Regions from separate parts of the Homo sapiens genome. Here region 1 is linked to region 2. Evidence: fine-mapped expression QTL. Tissue or cell type: skeletal muscle. Region 2 holds a variant in brackets; the other region holds the start of a gene. All regions are shown on one strand. Distances are between the middles of the regions.

Region 1 (2,909 bases), 22 kb after region 2:
TGCTGAAAACTGAGCGGCCCCGCACAGCGCCGGGCGCAGAGCAGAGGCTTTGCAGATAGCTGCCCCCAGATGGCACCTTGCAGCCTTCTGACCCAGACCAAAGTCCAAAAAGGTTGACTTACCCAAGGTCACACCTCTAGATAGTGATAGTGTGGCATCTGGACAGAATCACACTGGTCTTCCTAAACCTTAGCAAGACAACTCTCCAGTCTTGATGATTAACTGGATACAACCCTAAGCAGCTAACATCAGTCAAAAAAACTCAACGAGTGAAGGTTCCTGATTCTATTCCCTAACCCGTTTCTTCTAGTGGAAAAAGCTGTCTTCTTTTGGCAATTTTGGGGTGAGACTAATTTTGTTTACAACCCCAGCGCTGAAATGGGGTGGAATTTTACAGATGCCGTGTAGGCCCTCTGGCTTCAGGCGCTATGCTTCACCCTCCGGAGTTGGGCGACCGTCTTCTAGTTATCACCCCCCTAGCAACCAAAAGGTGTGTGGCCCAGGAAATAAACCCACTGGGAAAGGATGTTTTGTAGTATACAGAGTGCTTTCACATATTCCAAACATTGTGTATCAGGCACTGTGCTGGGTACTGCGGTTACAAATCAGTCACTATCACCCAGGATGTTAAGTCCTGCAGCGAACTAGTGTATTGTGCTTGACTTTGTTCCAAGCCTGGGCCTTGGCACCTTACAACTGAAAAGCTAAGTTGGTTCCTTTTAATTCATTTATGTTTCAGCTCCAGTGTCTGGCCTACGGGACCACCCACTCTAAAGCAGCCCCCGTCAATCCCAGAACCTGCCTTATGTTCGTTCTTCAGCAAGTGTGTTCAAGGCTTCACCTCCTGCACATAGTGGGGAGTGCTGGGAACACGGTCTCTAAGTGCTCCACAAAGGCTGAACCAGCGGTGAAAGGCCTGTAAGAAGAGCTAGGGAGCACGCAAAAGCCCCCAGCAGGGCTGTGAAGGCAGAGAAGGCACGAGGGCGTTCCAGGCACAGGGCCCAGCGTGAGCAACCGCTCCTAGAGTGAGGCTCCTGGGGTGAAAATGCCAGGGTGGTGACAGGTGGGGGCCGAACGCCGTCCCTAAGAAGCTCAGCCTGGGGACGCCCTGAGTCTTAACCCGGGCGGATACTGGCCTCCCCGGACAAGCAGCTACCCCGCCGCGGGGCGTCGGCCCCCTTCGGGCCTCAGTTTCCCCACGTCCCTCCCGACGCCTCACCTGGGGCGGGAGCAGGCGCGGCAGGCGCGGGGGCTCGGTGCCCCGGCCCCGCTGCAGGGCGGCCTGTTGGGCCGCGTCCCGCAGCCGCCGCGCCGCGTCCCGCAGCACGAAGGGGGGCGGCGGCGGCGGCGGCTGCGCCTTCGTCACCTGCTCCAGGACCTGCCGCAGCTGCTCGGGGCCCAGCGGGGCCACACGTGCGACGCTGCCGCTCTGGCCCGGAGGAGCCGGGCCGCCGCCGCCGCCGCCATCCTCGCTGCCGCCCCCAGCCTCCGGCTCCGCATCCGCCATGGCGGCCGAGGCGGGGACTCGAACCCGGGTCGCTGAGCGACGGCGTCTCCAATGTACGTCACCTAGGAGAGGGGCGGGCTACGAGTGCCTCGCAGGCCAAGACACCTAGGAAGGCGACCGTGTCTGGCCGGGAAAGTCGTGGAGTGCCCCGCCCCAGCCGACAACCGCCGCGGCTCTTAGGGCTGATCAGCAGAGCGGACCCCCCTTATTTTCCTTATTGCCTGTCACGGATGTGTTTAAGACTCACCTTCTCTGGGAGCTGTCCCGGATCTCCCAGGGGGAGGTCTTCGGGGTTTCAGAGCCCCTGGCCCAAAAGTTACCACAATATCCAAGTGTTCTGACGTCATCATGCATCCGAATCAGCGGAGGATGCTGTCTGGAGATGCAGAGTACTGTGCCCACCCCTAAACATTTGGATTTATACATCTGGGAGGGGACCACAGTTTGAATTGTTAACGAGAGTGTTTCCCAAATTTTTGCCTTGTCACCGTAGCTTCTCTCTACCCACCCACCCAGATTGGGTGCACCTTGAAGGGAGAGATGATATATTACACAATCGGTGCCCAGCACAGGCCCTGCCCAGAACACAACGCACGCTCAGGGCATGAATGATGGATGGATGAATATGAATAAACGAATGAGTGAACGAATGAATGAACCCACCCTCTCTCTATCCATCCAGCTCCACTGCCCCATCTTCCTCAGCCTGATCGCCTCTCCTTCTTACGGTTGAGGCTCTGTGCGCCCTCCGAATCTTGTAGCTGCAGGTGTGTACACATGTCCCAGCTCCTTTCCCCAGGGAGAGCAGGAGGTCCACTGGTCCACAAACCCTTCTTAAGCACCTGGTGGGTGAACCGCTGTTTCCGCCCTGGGGGGTATACAGTCTAGGTGCCGACCCCCAAGGAGGAAACTTCCCAAGGGGGAAGGAGGAAACTGGCATTTGCAGCACAGTATGATGAGCGCCGAAGCCGGTAAAGTAAGGCTGGCGGCCTGGGTGGCGTCAGAGAAGGTTCTGGAAGATCACCACCATCCTCATCAATACTCACATTGCATTCACGATGATCCCTTCCGTGTTATTTTTTAATGGTGAATTTTATATTATGGGTATCTTACCACAATTTTTTTTTTTTTTTGAGACAAGATCTCACTCTGTCACCCAGGCTGGAGTGCAGTGGCACAATCTCAGCTCACCGCAACCTCCATCGCCTGGGTTCATGCGGTTCTCCTGCCTCAGCCTCTTGAGTAGCTGGGATTACAGGCGTCCGCCACCATGCCTGGCTAATTTTTGTATTTTTAGTAGAGACGGGGTTTCATCATGTTGGTAAGGCTGGTCTTGAAACCCTGACCTTAGGTGATCCGCCCGCCTCGGCCTTCCCAAGTGCTGAGATTACAGGTGTGAGCC
Region 2 (2,909 bases):
AGGTCAAGAGATCGAGACCATCCTGGCCAACATGGTGAAACCTCATCTCTACTAAAAATACAAAAATTAGCCGGGTGTGGTGGCGGACACCTGTAGTCCCAGCTACTCGGCAGGCTGAGGCAGGAGAATCACTTGAACCCAGGAAGCGGAGGGTGCAGTGAGCCGAGATTGCACCATTGCACTTCAGCCTGGCGACAGCAAGACTCCATCTCAAAAAAAAACAATCAGGCCCAGTGCAGTGGCTCACACCTATAATCCCAGCACTTTGGGATGCTGAGGCGCGTAGATCACCTGAGGTCAGGAGTTCAAGATCAGCCTGACCACCATGGAGATACCCCGTCTCTACTAAAAATACAAAATGATCCAGGTGTGATGGCACATGCCTGTAATCCCAGCTACTTGGGAGGCTGAGGCAGGAGAATTGCTTGAACCCTGTGGTGGAGGTTGCGGTGAGCCAAGATCGAGCCATTGCACTCCAGCTTGGGCAACAAGACCAAAACTCCATCTCAAAAAAAAAAAAAAAAATCATTGGCCAGGTGCAGTGGCTCATGCCTGTACTGTAATCCCAGCACTTTGGGAAGCTGAGGTGGGCGGATTGCCTGAGCTCAAGAGTTTGAGACCACCCTGGGCAACATGGTGAAACCCCGTATCTACTAAAATACAAAAAAAAAAAATTAGCTGGGCATGGTGGCATGCTCCTGTAGTCACAGCTACTCAGGAGGCTGAGGCACGAGAATCGCTTGAGCCCAGGCGGCAGAGGTTGCAGTGAGCCAAGATCGCGCCACTGCACTCCAGCTTGGGCTACAGAGTAAGACTTGGTCTCAAAAATAATTAAATTAATTTAATTTAATTTAATTTAAAAAATCATGCAAGTAGAAATGACTTTTTCCCCCTTCTATCAATAAAATGCTGCCCAGAATGACTAGCTTATTTTCTTTTTAATTGAACCCAAAAGAAGCTTCTAGTATGGAGCAAGTCTGGTGGAAAAGCAGCATATCTCCCAGGAGAGAAGGGAAACGGAGCAGGGCCAATCATCAGGTGACAGTGCAGTGCTACTCATCACCATCATGAAAAACTCATGAGCGTCAGACGCGCCACAGGGATTCCTGATCAGGTAATATCTGCTATTATTATGACAAGCTCCATAGAAAAATGTAGACAGCAGGGCAGAAAGACATTATTCTTTATAAATAAAAGGTTCATCTGTGCAATATTCACATTAGAAAAATATACATTGCTTGCCATAGACCTTCTCTGGATAAAATCAGACGAATCTAGGATCTGACTCCACTTCACTGTGAGGGCTCTGGCTCCACGGTGACGACCGACTCCACAGCTTCTAGAGGAACTCCTTCTAGCGGGCCCATCCGCAGGCACGCCCCTCTGCATCAGTCACTGTGACAATGTCCTCCTCCTGAGACACTATTGTACCTGGAGGGGACAAGATAAGCCCATCGGAAGTCTGAATAAAAATCTGCTTCTGTCCCTGAGACAGTAACTCATGGCTCCCATTGGAAATTTCAAAAGCCATGGCTTCGCC[G/A]ACAGCAACCACGCTCTCCAGTTCTCTCTGGCCAGAGTGCACCTCCATCCCACAGGGGAACCGGTTCAAGTCCCCCGAAAGGCTTCTGAGACACCCTTCAGTCAATAGTGATCCATGTGGGCCAGGCTGAGGCCCTGGCTTGGGCACAGTCCTGTAGGCACAGTCCACTGCCACGCTATCCACAGACAAAATTTTCTCAAGCGGAGGGGCTGCCACCTCTGTAGGCAGGACGCTGGTGGGGCTGGGCTGCTGGTGGTTCAGGTGGAAGTCACAAACCTTGCCGAGGTGTCCTGCCTCTGCATGTCCAGGCCCCCCAGGCGGCAGGGACTCTGCTCCACCACCAGATGACAAAGGGCTGCAGAAACCCGGGCTCCTCAGGCTGTCCCAGGTGTCCTGGTCTGAAGAGTGTTCCAAAGCATTCTCTCCAGGAAACGCTGCCACCTGTGCCTGGGTCAGCCTCCTAGGCTCTCCTGACTGAGCATAAACAGGCAGCCCACTGACATCCCGGGATGAGAGAGCAGCACCTATAGACCCCCTCCTGGCTTCTAAGTTAGCCAGTGCCTGAAGCTGCGGGCCCGCCTGGAACACGCTCCCATTGCCACCAGAAACCGTCGTTGTATGGCTTTCTTCAGAACGGGGAGAGACAGTCACATTTACTGGAGGGGAAAAACCTAAACATTTTGGGAAACAGGTGAACATGGCGTGTACTGTGTCATGGCCCACTCACTGCACTCACCACCCAAAACCAGCTAGGCCAAGTCACCTGCCCTGCAGAAAAGTCAAAGCATCGATGCTCCTTGCTCCTTGGGATTGGTAGCAATTTTAAAAAATACGTCCCTATTCTCTATTCACAAAGACAGATTTTGTATTAAAAATATGCTCTAAGAGCCAATCGACAGTGTGCTTTTTTTTTTTTTTTTTTTTTGAGATGGAGTCTCGCTCTGTCACCCAGGCTGGAGTGCAGTGGCACGATTTCAGCTCACTGCAGCCTCCACCTCCTGGGTTCAAGCAATTCTCCTGCCTTAGCCTCCTGATAGCTGGGATTACAGGCATGCGCCACCATGCCCAGCTAATTTTTGTATTTTTAGTAGAGACAAGGTTTCACCATGTAGGTCAGGCTGGTCTCAAACTCCTCACCTTGTGAGCCACCCGACTCAGCCTCCCAAAGTGCTGGGATTACAGGCATGAGCCACCACACCCAGCAACAGTGATTTTATGCCAATACTGAATGAATGATTGGTGATTCTTCATCAGAGTGAGCTGGAGAATCACCCAAAGAGGCCTTTCCAAATACTCACATCCACACCCTCCCAACAACCCTACCTGCAGACCTGGAATTCCCAGAGGTCCAGGCCCCTGTATTTCACAA

Alleles and levels. Alleles are on the strand shown, and positions count from the first base shown. SD is a standard deviation of normalised expression in the study named.
In carriers of allele G in region 2, the expression in skeletal muscle of the gene that starts at base 1,527 in region 1 tends to be lower than with A alone (small effect, 0.30 SD a copy in GTEx).

Evidence for each region. PIP is the estimated chance that this variant, and not a neighbour inherited with it, causes the effect.
Region 1: it holds the start of ZNF839, and the variant in region 2 is the best candidate, but not a certain one, in a credible set for the expression of ZNF839 in skeletal muscle (GTEx, PIP 0.84).

Annotation. Positions count from the first base shown.
Region 1 is chr14:102,318,364-102,321,272 of GRCh38, reverse strand. It overlaps ZNF839 (zinc finger protein 839), which reads right to left and starts at 1,527. Exons shown (of 8, transcript NM_018335.6): 1 at 1,220-1,527. The coding sequence starts at 1,507. RefSeq lists an enhancer at 908-1,017 and silencers at 1,118-1,307, 1,368-1,467.
Region 2 is chr14:102,340,625-102,343,533 of GRCh38, reverse strand. ZNF839 (zinc finger protein 839) reads right to left here. Exons shown (of 8, transcript NM_018335.6): 8 at 1,167-2,211. The coding sequence ends at 1,355. Among named protein-coding and RNA genes, the nearest start is that of CINP, 21 kb to the left of the region's middle. The variant G/A (reference allele first, on the strand shown) is at 1,541.